Linked DNA regions of Homo sapiens: region 1 is linked to region 2. The links come from fine-mapping of genetic effects on gene expression. A gene starts in region 2. The other region holds a variant in brackets. All regions are shown on one strand. Distances are between the middles of the regions. Region 1 overlaps EMC3 (ER membrane protein complex subunit 3). Region 2 holds the start of EMC3 (ER membrane protein complex subunit 3).

Region 1 (9,404 bases), 24 kb after region 2:
AGTGGGGAAAGAATAGTCTCCATTCAACGAATGGTGCTGGGAAAAGGATATCTACATGCAAAAGAATGAGGCTGGGCACCTATTTCACACCATGCACAAAAGTTAAGTCCAAATGGTTCAACAGGCATGTTAGTGCAGAAGAAAAAAAAAAATTAGGTTCAAATTAGCCAAATGTGGTGGTGCATGCCTATAGATGGGAGGACCACTTGAGCTGAGGAGTTTGAGGCTGCAATGAGCTGTGATTGTGCCACTGCACACCAGCTTGGGTGACAGAGCGAGACCCTGTCTTGAAAAAAGAAATCAAATGGGTCAAAGTCCCAAATCTTTAATATTGCATGATATTACTCATATAAAATATTTGGAATAGGAAAATTCACAGAGACAAGAAAGTAGGTTAGAGTTTACTGAGGATGGGATGGGGGGCAGTGGGGAGTAATTGCTTACTGTGCACATTTTCTGTTTAAGGGGACATAAAACTTTGGAAATGATAGTAGACATGGGTACACATTGTGAATGTCATTAATGCCACTGAATTTTACATCTGAAATGGTTAAAAGTGGTGTATGTTATGTTACATATATTTTACCACAATAAAAAAATAAAAATTTGGCTGGGCGCAGTGGCTTACACCTTAATCCCAGCACTTTGGGAGGCTGAGACAGGCAGATCATTTGAGGTCAGGAGCTTGAGACCAGCCTGGCCAACATGGTGAAATGCCATCTCCACTAAAAATACAAAAATTAGCTGGGCATAGTGGTGCCTGCCTGTAATCCCAGCTACTCAGGAGGCTGAGGCATGAGAATTGCTTGAACCTGGGAGGCAGAGGTTGCAGTGAGCCGAGATCCACCATTGCAGATGCAGAGGTTGCAGTGAGCCAAGATGGCGCCACTGCACTCCACCCTGGGTGACAGAGTGAGATCACTCTGTCTCAAAAAAATAAACAACTAAAAAACAGTGAGAGGGCTGGGCATGGTGGCTCACGCCTGTAATCCCAGCACTTTGGGAGGCTGAGGTGGGTGGATCACAAGGTCAGAAGTTCAAGATCAGCTTGGTCAACATGGTGAAACCCCATCTCTACTAAAAATACAAAAATTAGCCGGGCGTGGTGGCGGGCGCCTGTAGTCCCAGCTGCTCAGGAGGCTGAGGCAGGAGAATTGCCTAAACCTGGGAGGCGGAGGTTGCAGTGAGCGGAGATTGCGCCACTGCACTCCAGCCTGGGTGCCAGAGCGAGACTCCATCTCAAAAAAAAAAAAAAACAGATACCACTTCATGCCCACTCAGATGGTTATAATTAATAAAAAAAAAGATCAACAATAACAAGTGTCGGTAAGGATGTGGAGAAATTGGAACCCTATTGTTGATGATGGTACAGCCACTTTGGAAAACAGTTTTTCTGCCTTTCCTCAAACAGTTAAAACATAGTTACTATATGATCCAGTAATTTCACTCTTAAGTAAATACTCAAGAGAACTGAAAATGTATGTCCACACAGAAACTTATGTGAGAATGTGTTCAGAGCATGATTCATAATAATCAAAAAGTAGACATAACCCAAATGTCCATCATCTAATGAATGAATAAACAATGGAATATTTTGGAATATAATGTACATTGTATGTACAGTAGAATATATACAATGGAGTGTTATTCAGCTATAAATAAGAGTGGAATACTGAATCATGTTAAACAGGGAAGAACCTTGAAAACATGCTAAGTGAAAGAAAATAACAAAAGGCCACATATGCCCAGAATAAGTGAAAAAAAGATACGGAAGATAACGTAGTAGTTGCCAGAGGTTGTGGGAGGTGAATAATGGGAGCTGTCTACTGTTTGGTATGTGGTTTCTTTTTGTTATGATAAAAGTGTTCTGCAATTAGATAGTGGTGGTGGTTGCACATATGAATATACTAAAAATCACTAAATTATACACATTAAAGGGGTAAATTGTATGACATGTAAATTATATCTGAAAAACTCACTCATGAGCTAACATTTGTATTTCACATTAAATAAGCTTGTTCTATCTATCTATCTATCTATCTATCTATCTATCTATCTATCTATCGAGGGTCTCACTGTGTCACCCAGGCTGGAGTGCAGTGGTACAATCCTTGCTCACTGCAGCCTCGAACTCCTGGACTTAAGCATTCCTCCCACCTCAGCCTCAGTACTGGTACACGAGAAGCCAGTACTACAGGCACACACCACCACACCCAACTAATTTTTTTTTAAATTTGTATAGAGATGGGATCTCGCTGTGTTGCCCAGGCTGGTCTTGAACTCCCATCCTCAAGTGATCCTCCTGCCTTGGCCTCCCAAAGTGCTAGGATTACAGGTGTGAGCTACCACATCTCGCAAGCTTTTTTTTTTTTTTTTTAATTTATTTTTAAAGACGAGGTATTACTATCTCTAGGCTCATCTAAAGATAGGTTGTCCAGGGCAGTCCCAAACTCCTGGGCTCAAGCTATCCTTAGCCTCAGCCTCCAGAGTAGCTGGGACTGTAGATGCATGCCACTGCACCCAACTCATAAAGCATTTTTTAGACACTCACTAATTTAAGGCAAAGTAGTCAGATTAATAGAATATTTGAGAAATGTAATTTCTTGGAAAATTCTGCAAATTTATTTCTGCTCAACATATTACTAGTTTACATCTAAATGATTATATGCCAAAAACAGTTTTTTAGTTCACATCATCAAAGTCTTTATTCCAGTGATTAAAAATTACTGGACTCCCACAAACTGTAATGAAGTGCCATTGTGTGTCTGGACATAAGGTTGGAGGAAGTGTTCTTAGGCCCACTGAAGATACCCTGGGCCATTTATGTCAAAGCATTGTGGACCATGCACCATTTAAACCAGATGGCAAGTCCCTTGATTAAAGAGCTGAGAATCTGCACTAATTTGTCTGTTGTACATCTCTCAAGAGTACTGTGGGGCACAAAGGTGCTTAGTGAGTGTGAGCTGATAGACGGGTTAAGCGCTGGGGACTTTGCAGTCAGACCACAATTTAAATCTCAGCTCCATTAGTTCCTAGTGCCAGTGGCCTTGAACAAATTATTTGACCTCTTAGTCTTAGTCTCCTTATCTATAAATTGAGGGGTGGCAGGAAGAGGGGGAGGAGAGGATTGGGGTAGCAGCATTTCCCTTGTAGGATTGAATGAGCTTATACATGCAGATAGCTCACTCCAGCTTTTGGCCCAGAGTAAGTGGTCACTAAAGGTTAGCCACAGCTGTCAGTAACAATTCCCTCTCTTCCTGCCTGGGTGTTCTCTTCCATTACAGACAGAGTGGGAAGCTTTGGAGCTGACGGATCACCAGTGGGCACTAGATGATGTCGAAGAAGAGCTCATGGCCAAAGACCTCCACTTCGAAGGCATGTTCAAAAAGGAATTACAGACCTCTATTTTTTGAAGACCGAGCAGGGATTAGCTGTGTCAGGAACTTGGAGTTGCACTTAACCTTGTAACTTTGTTTGGAGCTGGCACCTCTTGAAATAAAAAGGAGGATGCACGAGCTGGCAGGCATGCAGCAAGGCTTGTTCTTGTCTGGGCTGGGTTCCCCTTTATGTTTGAAACTAGAGGAAATAGGAGTATGCTGGGCAACTTGTTATTTTTAAAATGTTGTAAATGTTCCTTCTGGTGACTCTAGTAATGAAAGTC[A/G]GAGAAAGGGGGAAACCTCAGGCTACTGATAATATATAAAATCTTGGCCAGGCGCAGTGGCTCACGCCTGTAATCCCAGGATTTTGGGAGGCTGAGGCGGGTGGGTCACGAGATCAGGAGTTCAAGATCAGCCTGGCCAAGATGGTGAAACCCCATCTCTACTAAAAATACAAAAAAAAATTAGCCGGGCGTGGTGGTGGGCACCTGTAATCCCAGCTACTTGGGAGGCTGAGGCAGAGAACTGCTTAAACCTAGGAGGCGGAGGATGCAGTGAGCTGACATCGTGCCACTGCGCTCCAGCCTGGGCGACAGAGCAAAACTCCATCTGAAAAAAAAAAAAAAATATATATATATATATATATATATCTATCTTAGCAGAAGCCCAGTCTTCGAAGGAAGCATTGTTAATTATAGCTAATGATTATGTGCAGTCAGCCTGACATCTAGCCACAGTAAACTCCTGTTTTCTTGGGATCCAAACACCCTGTGTTTTACCATTAGTTTTGTTAGTATTGTTAACTTTCTTTACACAAGTAAACCATTTCCACTACCAAAGGTTTAGAAACTATGGATGAACAAAATGAATCTCCCTGTTCATTTTGAGCCTACATAGACATAGAGACCAAATATGTCAAAACCTTATTCAAATAAACTCTCTTCAGAGTGAATACCCAGGGTCAGGACAGACTCAGCAAACCTTCTATATCACTTAATTCTGCCCAGTGAAAATCAGTGACCCTGAGGCACTGCCAGATTCTAAAGTGCCTTTGGGATCATCAGAGACTGTCTATAAATAATGCAAAATCTTGATCTGGATGTCAGTGTATCAAATCTTATCAAATCCATTGACAAATCAGTGGTGCTATACTGGAAATGGCTACTCCTTTGGATGAAGGACCTCATTTCCCAGTTGCTTGGAACAAAAGAGAATTTACATATTGCTGTAAGAAGGGAGAGACGGCAGTTGTTGGTAGACACACAGATAAGGGTGCCCAAGAATAATTCTGTCTGGATTAAAGGTCCCAGGGAAGTGACGGTGCCATTTCTGTACCAAGAGGTGAATATAATTTGCATGTTGAGTGCAGTAATTAAGAACAAACGACTCGACTCCACAAATTAAACCGTCCTGTTTTCTCTTCTTTGCCTGTGAAAGTGTTGCCTCTGTAAGTCACTAACAACCTTCTGCCAGCAGTTGACTGTCTATCTTGGATCAGTGCGGGGAGTCTAAGACGAAAGAGATGTGAACCTTGCCCTCAACTCACAAGAGAGAGACACCTAAGAGCTTTTTAAAATTTTTTATTATTTTTTTAGAGACGATACCTTGCTATGTTGCCCAGACTGGTCTTGAACTTGTGAGCTCAAGCCATCCTCCTGCCTCACCCTCCCAAAGTGCTGGGATTACAGGCATGAGCCACTGTGCCTGGCCAAAAGAGACCTTTTTTTGAGGTCACCGAATCTGAGAATCTGGAATCTCTGACCCTGGCCTCCAGAGTAACATATGTGGACATAGATACAGACATGTCCCTCTAAAACTTATTCATAATGACCCGCAGACCCAAGTTAAGAAACCCTGACCTTTAACGATAGTTAAAATGGCTGCTTATACCAGATAGAAAAGGAACAAGTGTTCACAGGAGAGCTAACCTTTGACCTGGGTCTTGAAAGACTTCCTCTGTGTAGAAGGGCATTCCAAGCAGAGAAAACAGAATCAGCAAAAGCCCATGGATTAAACTGTCTGCAATTCATTGCACCCCAAGGAAGTGGGGAGTGGTCCAGTATGCCCTGGAAAGGTCCAGGTTGGGTAGCATGCAAATGGTAATTGGTGATTGAGTGGTAGCCGCCTCGTTCCTCTGCATCGGGAGCATTTGAGTCTGCCTCTTCACCCACACAAGGTTTGGCCTTTTTCCCTTGTAGCAAAGATGGGTGGTTAAAATGTGTGTGACCAGCCTGGCCAACATGGTGAGACCCCGTCTCTACTAAATATACAAAAATTAGCCAGGCATGGTGGTGTGCACCTGTAATCCCAGTTACTCGGGAGGCTGAGGCAGGAGAACCACTTGAACCTGGGAGGCAGAGGTTGCAGTGAGCCGAGATCGTGCCACTGCACTCCAGCCTGGGCAACAAGAGTGAAACTCCATCTCAAAGAATAAAAAAATGTGTGTGAGACTTTCCTGTCCCATTGTACTGGTAGTAAATGCACAGACCTGTCCTTGGCATCAGCGAGTCAAAAAGAAAAGCCAAGGTTGTTTTAGTAGGCTCTTTCCAGAACAGCGCACAGGCTTAGGGAGCAGTGCTTATTGTGTGTGTTTCTTGGAGTTCAATTTGGGCCAGGCTATAAATGAGAATTGCATCTCTTCCATCCACCTTGACTTATCACCTGATACTACTTAGGACACCGCAAATGTCTACTTGCTGATCATGGAATAGAACAGGGGTGTCCAATCCTTTGGCCTCCCTGGGCCACACTGGAATAAGAATTGTCTTGGGCCACACATAAAATACACTAACACTGACGATAGCTGATAAGCTACAAAACAAACAAAAAACAATGTTTTAAGAAAGTTTATGAATTTGTGTTGGGCCCCATACCAAGCTGTCCTGGGCGGCATGCAGCCTACAGGCCAGACAAGCTTGGTATAGAAAGTACCGTACAAGGAAAGCTAAATATTGACAGTCAACTGCACAACACAACTCAGAAAAATACAATTTAGATTTGAGGTGAGTAGGTAAACCCGTGCTTAGGGACAAAAGTCAGCTCGATTCCTCTGTTTGGTCTGTAAGGTGTGTGATGGGTATGTGTGTATGTGAAAGAGGGTTACTAACTGGATTAGGAATATTGCAGTTGCAGGTGACAAGCTGAACTCAAGCAATTAAAAAGGAATGGAAATTGACTCAATAACTAAAATGTCTGGTGGTTGGCTTCAGGCACAGCTGGGTCCAGGGCCTCTCATGATATCATCAGGACTCAGTTGCTTTCTCAAGTCTGCTTCTTAGACAGTTAGTTTTCTTATAGAGGCACGAGATTAGTAATCCTAGTGAAAAGAAAGCACCCCTTTTTAAAAAATCTAGGAAAAGTTAGGGTTGCATCTTAACTCATCTGCCTTAAGTCAACTGCAAATTCCAGGAACTGCTTAGCTTCTCATAAACTATAAGAACTGAAGGTATAATAAGAGTGATTCCCCAAAGGAAAACTGGGATGCTGTTGCCTGAAGAAGTGGCATGGGTACCAGACAAAAAATATCTTATCTTACCTTTAATCATCCAAACCATCTGGAATGTTCCCAACAGGAGGTGCTGTCCCTGTCCTTGGAAGTAATTGCGGTCTGCAAACATTTGCAGGATTTCTACAGTGTGCTCAGGGCCATGCTAGATATTTTCAGATCTTTCTGTTCATTCAACCAATAGTGAATTGAGTGTTGCCAGGCACTGCATATGAACAAGACACAGTCACAGACCTTAAAAACTCAGACTGCTAGACCAACCTGGCTAACACGGTGAAACCCTCTCTCCACTAAAAAATACAAAAAAATTAGCCGGGCATGGTGGCGGGTGCCTGTAGGCCCAGCTACTTTGGAGGCTGAGGCAGGAGAATGGCGTGAACCCAGGAGGTGGAGCTTGCAGTGAGCCGAGATTGCGCCACTGCACTCCAGCCCGGGCGATAGAGTGAGACTCCATCTCAAAAAAAAAACAAAAACCAAAAAACCTCAGACTACTATAGTACATGCTGTGACAGGGACGATCCTAGGGAGGCCATGGGAACATCCTGCAGGTCATCCAGTCAACCCGAATGCTCAGGGAAGGCTTCCCAGCAGAAACATCTCAACTAAGATGTGAAAGATCATGAGGAACTTGCCAGAAAAAAATATACAGACTGTTCTAAACAGAGGTAACGGTGTGCACAAAGTCTCAGAAGCAAAGATGTTGGTGTTTTCATGGAACTGAAACAAGACCTGCATGACCCTGCAGTGTAGAGTATGAAAGGACTGATAAACATTTGGATTGTACACTTAAAACGGGTGAATGGGGTGGGGTGCGAATTATAGCTCACTAAAACTGCTTCAGAAGACAAGATGAGGAGGCAGCACTAGGGCCAGATGGCAGAGGAGCTTATAAGTCATCCCTCAGAGGCGGAACTTCATCCTGATGATGGCAGCAGGAAGCCTTTGTAGGGACTGGTGTGAAGGGATTTGCTGCTGGGCAAGGAATGGAATGGAGGGGCAGAAGTGGGTATGGAGAGCACTGGAGTGAGAGTGAGATGGTAATGCGGTCAGAGGAGAAGGCGCAGCATTGAAGTCATGTCCATGATTAGCTCCTGCTTTCTCACACTCACTGTGTTGCTTTGCAGAAGACAGTTTCCCTCTTTGGGCCTCAGTCTCCCCACCAGTCACAAGGCTACTTTGGAAAAGTCTGGCAGGTCCTCAAAAGTTTTAATGTAAAATTTCCATATGACTCAGCAGTTCCACTCCTAAATAGATATATACCCAAGAGAAGTGAAAACATACTGGCCGGGCATAATGGCTCATGCCGGTAATCCCAGCACTTTGGGAGGCCGAGGCAGGCGGATCACGAGGTCAGGAGTTCGAGACCAGCCTGACCAACATGGTGAAACCCCGTCTCTACTAAAAATACAAAAATTAGCTGGGCGTGATGGCGCGCCACTGTAATCCCAGCTACTCGGGAGGCTGAGGCAGGAGAATCGCTTGAACCTGGGAGGTGGAGGTTGCAGTGAGCCAGGATCATGCCATTGCACTCCAGTCTAGGCAACAGGGTGAGACTCCATCTCAAAAAAAAAAGAAAAGAAAACATATGTCCAGATCAGGTGCGTTGGCTCATGCCTGTAATTCCAGCACTTTAGGAGACCAAGGCAGGTGGATCGAGCCTCCTGTAGTCCCAGCTACTCAGGAGGCTGAGGCAGGAGAATTGCTTGAACATGAGAGCCAGAGGTTGCAGTGAGCTGAGATCGCACTACTGCACTCCAGCCTGGGCTACCGACTGGGCCACAAAGCGAGACTCTGTCTCAAAAAAAAAAAAAAAAAAAGAAAGAAGAAAAAGAAAACATGTCTACACAATTATGTATACATGAATATTCATAGTAGCCACAAGGTGGGAAACAACCCAAATGTCTATCAGCTAACAGATGGATAAATGAAATATGGTATAGCCATACAATGGCGTATTATTCAGCAGTAAAAAGAATAAAGTACTGACCAGGTGCAGTGGCTCACGCCCGTAATCCTTGCACTTTAGGAGGCTGAGGTGGGAGGATTGCTTGAGGCCAGGAGTTCAAGACTGGCCCGGCAACATAGCAAGACCCTGTCTCTACAAAAAATAAAGTTATCTGGGCATGGTGGCGTATGCCTGTAGTCCCAGCTACTCAGGAGCCTGAGGCAGGTGGGTGGTTGCTTGAGCCCAGAAGTTGAAGATTACAGTGAGCCATGACTGTGCCACTGCACTCCAGCCTGGGCAACAGATTGAGACCCTGTCTCTAAAACAGTAAAATAGGTTAGGCACAATGTCTCATGCCTGCATTCCAAGTACTTTGGGAGGGTGAGGCGGGAGGATCACTTGAGCCTGGGAGTTGGAGACCAGTTTAGGCAACATAGTGAGGCCTCACAAGAAAATGAAAAAAAAAATCAGCCAGGCATGGTGGCACATGCCTGTAGTCCCAGCTACCGAGGAGGATGAGGTGGAAGGATTGCTTGAGCCCAGGAGGTCAAGGCTGCAGTGAGCCATCATTGCACCA
Region 2 (8,000 bases):
AAAAGAAAAATATGAGGGCTGGGTGCAGTGGCTCATGCCTATAATCCCAGCACTTTGGGAGGCCCAAGCAGGAGGATCACTTGAAGCTAAAAATTTGAGACCAGCCTGGGAAACACAGCAAGACCTCATCTCTATAAAAAATAAAAGAATGGCCGGGCGCGGTGGCTCACACCTGTAATCCCAGCACTTTGGGAGGCCAAGGCGGGCAGATCACGAGGTCAGGAGATCGAGACCATCCTGGCTAACATGGTGAAACCCCGTCTCTACTAAAAATACAAAAAATTAGCCAGGCGAGGTGGTGGGCGCCTATAGTCCCAACTACTCAGGAGGCCGAGGCAGGAGAATGGCGTGAACCCGGGAGGCGGAGCTTGCAGTGAGCCGAGATCGTGCCACTGCACTACAGCCTGGGCGACAGCGAGACTCCGTCTCAAAAAATAAATAAATAAATAAATAAATAAAAGAATTGGCCAGGCGTGGTGGCTCACACCTGTAATCCTAGCACTTTGGGAGGCTGAGGCAGGTGGGTGGATCACCTGAGTCAGGAGTTTGAGACTAGCCTGGCCAATATGGTGAAATCCCATCTCTGCTAAAAATACAAAAATTAGCCAGGCATGGTGGCAGGCACCTATAATCCCAGCTACTAGGGAGGCTGAGGCAGGAGATTTGCTTCAACCCAGGGGCCAGAGGTTGCAGTGAACCGAGATTGTGGCACTTCACTATAGCCTAGGCAAAAGAGCGAAACTCTCTCAAAATAACTAACTAACTAACTAACAGAATTAGCCAGGCCTGGTGGTGCTTGCCTGTAGTCCCAGCTACTCCAAAGACTGAGGTGGGGGGATCGCTTGAACCCGGGTGTTTGAGACTGCAATGAACTATGATGCTGTCACCGCACTCCACCTTCGGTGACAGAGCAAGACTTAGTCTCTTAAAAAAAAAAAAAAAAAAAAAAAAAGAGAAAGGCCCGGCACGGTGGCTCACACCTGTAATCCCAGGACTTTGGGAGGCTGAGGTGGATCATAAGGTCAGGAGATCCAGACCATCCTGGCTAACAACGTGAAACCCCATCTCTACTAAAAATACAAAAAATTAGCCGGGCGTGGTGGCAGGCGCCTGTAGTCCCAGCTACTCGGGAGGCTGAGGTAGAAGAATGGCATGAACCCAGGAGGTGGAGCTTGCAGTGAGCTGAGATTGCGCCACTGCCTGCACTCCAGCCTGGGTGACAGAGCAAGACTCTGTCTCAAAAAAAAAAGAGAAAACACTGGGAGTGTATTCAGGGCAATCTGAGTCTATGCTTCCAGGAAAAAAAAAAAAAAAAAGTTAAAAAGGCAAGCAGGACAAAAAAGAAAAAACAAATTTTACTACTTCTCTTAACTGAATGCTCCACTTCTTAGGACACCAAAATTTAGAGTCATTAGACCAGAATACAGTCATTAAAGATAACAATGAAGACAAAGCAGAAGCACATGGAGAAGAAAATGTTGAGAAAAAAGAATACAAATTATATTTATATTTATAAAATGATTACAAATACGTAAAAATAGGTATGCAGGCAGTCAAGGTGTTAAATTTGTGTTTATCTAAAACCAAAAACAGTGTGTTTGGAGTACTTTGATATTTCTCACCACAAAAAGTTATTCATTTTTTTCATTGCTTTATTCATCATCATGAAAGCTTTTAAGATAGTCATCCCAAAATTGGATAACAAAACTAACAAAAATCCCACAAAACAGATTCCAACCAAAGAAAAATCTTTAAAGGCAACCAATCAGCACCTAAGGAACTCAATCATCTGGCTTTTTATCTTTTGAGATGGAGTCTTGCACTGTCGCCCAGGCTGGAGTGCAGTGGCGTGTGCCACCAGGCCAGGCTAATTTTTTTTTTGTATTTTTAGTAGAGACGGGGTTTCGCTACATTGGCCAGGCTGGTCTCAAACTCCTGACCTCAGATGATCCGCCTGCCTCAGCCTCCCAAAGTGCTGGGATTATAGGCGTGAGCCACCGTGCCCGGCCAATCATCTGGCTTTTTGATGGAAGGTATTTCTAGAATTAATAGAGACATAAGATCCAGTACCACTGCTTTGACAGTGGACAGACTGATTTACTCTAGTCAGGTCTACATGAGCAAAGTAAAGTAAAACATGGAATGCCATTATCTTGACAGTGGTGCTGGGTGGAAGGAAGGGCAATTAGGCAGATATAGGGACCTGAGACTTAGGTGGTTATTTTCTTCATCTCATCAGTGGGGACCTGGCTTCTTTGACTGCACCTTGATGTGCTTGTTTACACTGTTAGTATTTCCCCTTGTGGATACTGTAGGCTTATTTTATAGCCAGAGTGAGTAGGGGCAGGCTATCTGGCCAGTCGCCACCTCAGATTATCTTCCCCAGACAGCTAATGTTTATTAGAGCAACTAGGGAAGAGAGAGAAGAGTGACTGGAGGGAGGAGAAAGAAAGACAGTGGGAAGGCAAGCTAGCCAATGTCATTACTTTTAAGTCTGCAATACTGAAAATGCATAGTACATGAACATTACCTTGTGTTCAGATACTGAGGCAGTGTTTTCAATTGCCTGAAAAAACAGGAGAGTCACAAAAATATTATGACACATCAGCGAAACACGTTACACCTTATTCAGCATGCCCTGTTATCTCATCTAAGAGCCAATGTGTCCATATGGCAACCATCAGCTATCATTTCCACTTGAATGAGTTTTGAGATTTTTATTTCAATCTACCTCAGTTATACATCTGTCACTAATTGCCACTCATTTCCTCCTTGATAATCAAAGTTCCAAAGATCCCACCTTAATCCAGGCTTCTGAAATGGTTTTCTCATATCTAATAGCTGACTTTATTACATCAAAGAGAATAATACGGTTCTGACCGCTGCTTTCTTGATTTCCTGAGGAATTACAAGTAGCAGAGAGGAAAAAAATTACTCTTCTACCTACCAGAAAAGAACTTACAAGATGTGAATTCCTGCTTAGTAGCCATGTACCCTGGAGTAAATGACAACCTCATGTATAAGATGGCTAATAAACTTGCACTGTAGTCTGCCTGGGATTGATCTGAATGGCTAAGAAAACATATGAACACATACATAGCCACATACATATACGTAATTTGAAAAACGATATAATACTAGATGTAAATATCATAATAGTACCATTATTTGTAGTTGTAAGTATTAAGCTCCAACTCTGACTGTGGGATGTCAGAGAACTGTGACATCCTATGTGAGGAAAAGGGTGGCAATTATCCATGAGCTCTTTACCTTGCTTGTCCTTTACTTTTTAACTTTACTTGGAAAGCCTGCAACAGTGATGGCAAAACACAATGCTGCAGGATCCAACTTCTCCCGAAGCTCAGAGATTACCTGCAGAAAGTTAATATTAGCTATGGTGTTCTGCTCATTCATAGTGGGTAGGTACAGTCCAGTCTCTCAACCATGACAATCTCCTGAAAGACTGAGGAAGAAAAAATTTTAAACGTTGGACATTTTGAAAAATAGAGTTGTGAGAATAGCTAAATGCAATGTCGTAGAATGTCATATCCAAAATTTCAGAATTCTGTGAGGTACTACACAGAAAGAGTAAATGTAACTTATAGCAGCTTATATAGATCAATGAATCTGTTGAATAGCTCCATTTCCTCTTCTCAATGCTATCCGGATTAGTCAACATTCTCAGTTAGTCAGGACTTTCGGCTTCCAGACACCCGCCTTTAACACGTGCGATACCATTTGGCTTCCCGAGAAGCCCAACAGACGTGAGATGAGGCCGACTGCCTGGACTAGTTCATCGGGAAGGGGGTGAGGGTAAAAGCCTTTCTCATTTCCTCATTTTAACGACGCAGAAAGGTACCTGTGGGGACTATCCCATCTCAGGGCAGATGAGGAAGCCGAGGCTTGGGGCGCGGAGCCCCAGAGAAGAACGCCGACCGCGGCCCGGACTTAAGAGATTAGGTCGCAGGGGAGCGGGGCCTCGAGAGACTACGACCACTGCTCCATTTACTCACCGAGAAGCCGTCCCCGCCTGTAGTTTTCTTTCTTTTTTTTTTTTTTTTTTTGAGACGGAGTCTTCCTCTGTCGCCCAGGCTGGAGTGCAGTGCAGCAATCTCGGCTCACTGCAGGCTCCGCCTCCTGGGTTCACGCCATTCTCCTGCCTCAGCCTCCCGAGTAGCTGCGACTACAGGCGCCTCCACCACGCCTGGCTAATTTTTTTGTATTTTTAGTAGAGACAGGGTTTCACCTGTTAGCCAGGATGGTCTCGATCCCCTGACCTCGTGATCCCCCCACCTTGGCCTCCCAAAGTGCTGGGATTCCAGGAGTGAGCCACCGAGCCTGGGCCACCGCCGATAGTTTTCCACTTTCCCGCCAGGCCCGACGCCGCTCTGACGCCACTGAGGTGCGCCACGACGTGACGTCAACGTTCGCGCCGGAAGTGGAAGACCAGGCAGCCCAGCTGAAGGCAGTAAGCTCGGCTCACAGTCGCAGGAGAGTTCTGGGGTACACGGGCAAAGGGGCTTGAGAAGGCCCGGAGGCGAAGCCGAAGAGAAGCAACTGTGCCCCGGAGAAGAGAAGCTCGCCCATTCCAGACTGGGAACCAGCTTTCAGTGAAGATGGCAGGGCCAGAACTGTTGCTCGACTCCAACATCCGCCTCTGGGTGGTCCTACCCATCGTTATCATCACTTTCTTCGTAGGCATGATCCGCCACTACGTGTCCATCCTGCTGCAGAGCGACAAGAAGCTCACCCAGGAACAAGTATCTGACAGGTCAGCGCCCTCCCTTCTCCAGCCTACCTCACACCGCCGTGACCTTGGGCAAAAAAGTGCAGGAGTTGTGTCAATTTGCCTAGGTTCACGTCGCGCCCCCTCTGACAGGGTGACCTTACCCGTTACCTCTGTGTTTCACTTTTGTCCTCTGTGAAATGGGGATGATAACAGTACCTGCTTCATAGACAGGTAGGAATCAAATTAGGTGATGTCTGTAAGTCCCTTAGCACAGGATCTAGGACGTATTGAGTGTTGAAAAAAACAGTACTGTTAATCCTTTAGGTTAGTCGCCGACCCTCGGTGGGTTTACCTATGAACTATTCCATCCCACCCTTCCGTTGAGAAGAGTGCCAGGTGCGTTACAGCGTTTAGTCTTTGTAACATCCAGTCAAGTGAGTGTGATAATCTGCATTCTACCAAATTACTGTTCCAGGCGTCGGGCCTGGTGGGACTGTCAGCTGAGATGCCAAGTACCAAAGCGCTTTGCAGTCTGTAAAACTGCCATTAGAGATGTAAGGAATTGTAATTATTTCCCCCCACTAGAGTGGAGGCAACTTCCTCACATATTTCATTGCAGTATTTATTTATTTATCTATTTATTTGCTTATTTTTGAGACGGAGTTTCGCTCTCGTTGCCCAGGCTGGAGTGCGGTGGCGTCATCTCAGCTCACTGCAGTCTACGCCTCCCGGGTTCAAGCGATTCTCTTGCCTCAGCCCCCCGAGTAGCTGGGATTACAGGCCCGCACCACCACACCTGACTAATTTTTGTATTTTTAGTAGAGACAGGGTTTCACCATCTTGGCCAGGCTGTTCTCGAACTCGACCTCAGGTGATCCACCTGCCTTGGCCTCCCAAAGTGCTGGGATTACAGGTGTGAGCCATGGCAACCAGCCCCTCGTTGCAATATTTATATACAGATAAAGGAATTTGAGATGATTATAGGTGGTTATCTAGACATGTAGCCCCTCATATTAAAGTAATAGTTTTCTCCCAGCAACTTGGGATGCTGAGGCAGGAGGATTGTGGGAGACCAGCCTGGGCAACATAACGAGACCTTGTCTCTTAGAAAAACAAGCAATTTTCAGTCAGTTCTGATTACTTTCAGAAATCATCTCAGGTAAGTGCTACTATATCTTTAGCACCTCTCTCTCACATTAATTTCTCGTTTTAATAAAGAGAGTAAGCCTCAGGCTAAGAACTTTTCACAGGTAACAGTGTCTAGTTAAAATTTAATAATGTTGTTTTGTTTCTACTGTACTTAAGTTACTTTCTTTTTTGTGACAATACTGGATTTCCATTTGCTGGTAATTTAAAGATTCCTTTAAAATCATATAGATGGGAAAAAAGTTGATATATAAAAAGTATTAAATATGTAATGATACAAGCGTTGGACAAAAATTCTAACATGGCATGAGAGTGACTGAAGTTTAGGAAGCACTACTGTAACATTTTCAGTTAGTTCTTCCCAATTATGCCAAGAAGAATAATAACCATTTACTCTATATCAGGTACTATGTGAAGTACTTACATTCATTAACTTATTTAAAACTTCAAAGCAACTCTATGAGGTACATATTGTCTCATTTTATAGAAACAGAGGCTTTAACAAGTTCCATCCCACCCGTTCGTTGAGAAGAGTGCCAGGTGCGTTACAGCGTCACACAGGGTGACATTTAGGACTTCACACCAAGCCTTCTGGGTATTGGGCTTTTTCCACTATACTACAGCGATCACTTTATCTTTCTGTAGCATTAGTTTCAGAACTGACCAGAGCCAGCACCCCACCCTGGAGCGAACCTTAAGAAGTCAGCTTACTGGCCGGGCATGGTGGCTCATGCCTGTACTCCCAGCACTTTGGGAGGCCGAGGCGGACGGATCACGAGGTCAGGAGATCGAGACCATCCTGGCTAACATGGTGAAACCCCGTCTCTACTAAAAATACAAAAAATTAGCTGAGCGTGGTATGCTGGGCGCCTGTAGTCCCAGCTACTCGGGAGGCTGAGGCAGTGGAATTGCTTGAACCCAGGAGGCGGAGCTTGCAGTGAGCCAAGATCGCGCCACTGCACTTCAACCTGGGTGACAGAGCAAGACTCTGTCTCAAAAAAACAGAAAAGAAGTCAACTTACTGGCCGGGTGTGGTGGCTTACGCCTGTAATCCCAACACTTTGAGAGGCCGAGGCAGGCAGATCATGAGGTCAAGAGATTGAGACCATCCTGGCCAACATGGTGAAACCCCATCTCTACTAAAAATACAAAAATTAGCTGGGCGTGATGGCACGTGCCTGTAGTCCCAGCTACTCGGGAGGCTGAGGCAGGAGAATCGCTTGAATCCGGGAGGCAGAGGTTGCGGTGAGCCGAGATCATGCCACTGCACTCCAGCCTGGCGACAGAGCGAGACTCCATCTCATTTAAAAAAAAAAAAAAAAGTGTATTTACCACAGAAAGAAGGGCTGTAGAAAAGTGCGAAGTGGGGAAAGCTCAGACATTTAGCATTTTCTGGCACCTGTAAAATTTCTTATTTTAGCCTTACATTAGCACTGAAGCAGATACTCCTTAACCCATTTTTACAATTCCAGGGAGCCTGGAAAAGTTAAGTAGTCTTCCCAAAGTAGGGAAATATTGTGCCTGTACTTGAACTCAGATCAGTCTCACTCCCAGGTTAAACCCTCTTCAACCATGATTCCTGCTGTCGTAGATTCTCTGCCATGATTTTCTGCCCATGGTTCACTATTAGAGCAATGGTTCTGAATTATATCAGATCCAAAGCTCTCTTTTGTAACCACAAAATGAAATTCACAGTTAGTGTAGTCTGTTTACAAGAACCTTTTTTTTTTTGGAGACCAGAGTCTCACTCTTGCCCAGGCTGGAGTGCAGTGGCGCAATCTTGGCTCACTGCAACCTCTGCCTCCCCAGCTGAAGTGATTCTCCTGCCTCAACCTCTCGAGTGGCTGCGATTAGCGGCATGCGCCAGCATGCCTGGCTAATTTTTGTATTTTAGTAGAGACAGGGTGTGAGCCATTGCACCCAGCCAAGAACGCTTCCTTAAGAAGGAATGTAACAGCCGGACACAGTAGCACATGCTTGTAATCCCAGCACTTAGGGAGGCTGAGGTGGGCAGATCTCTTAAAGTCAGGGGTTCAAGACCAGCCTGGCCAACATGGTGAAACCCCATCTCTGCTAAAAATACAAAAATTAACCAGACACGGTGGCATGTGCCTGTAATCCCAGC

The links. PIP is the estimated chance that this variant, and not a neighbour inherited with it, causes the effect.
Region 1: its variant is fine-mapped to the expression of EMC3 in whole blood (TOPMed, PIP above 0.99).

The regions. Positions count from the first base shown.
Region 1 is chr3:9,958,078-9,967,481 of GRCh38, reverse strand. EMC3 (ER membrane protein complex subunit 3) reads left to right here. Exons shown (of 8, transcript NM_001394674.1): 8 at 3,285-4,800. The coding sequence ends at 3,413. Among named protein-coding and RNA genes, the nearest start is that of PRRT3, 10 kb to the right of the region's middle. The variant A/G (reference allele first, on the strand shown) is at 3,662.
Region 2 is chr3:9,983,278-9,991,277 of GRCh38, reverse strand. It overlaps EMC3 (ER membrane protein complex subunit 3), which reads left to right and starts at 4,437. Exons shown (of 8, transcript NM_001394674.1): 1 at 4,437-4,771. The coding sequence starts at 4,617. It overlaps EMC3-AS1 (EMC3 antisense RNA 1), which reads right to left and starts at 4,385. Exons shown (of 3, transcript NR_103821.1): 1 at 4,014-4,385; 2 at 2,531-2,566. RefSeq lists enhancers at 3,868-4,087, 4,348-4,507, 3,972-4,619.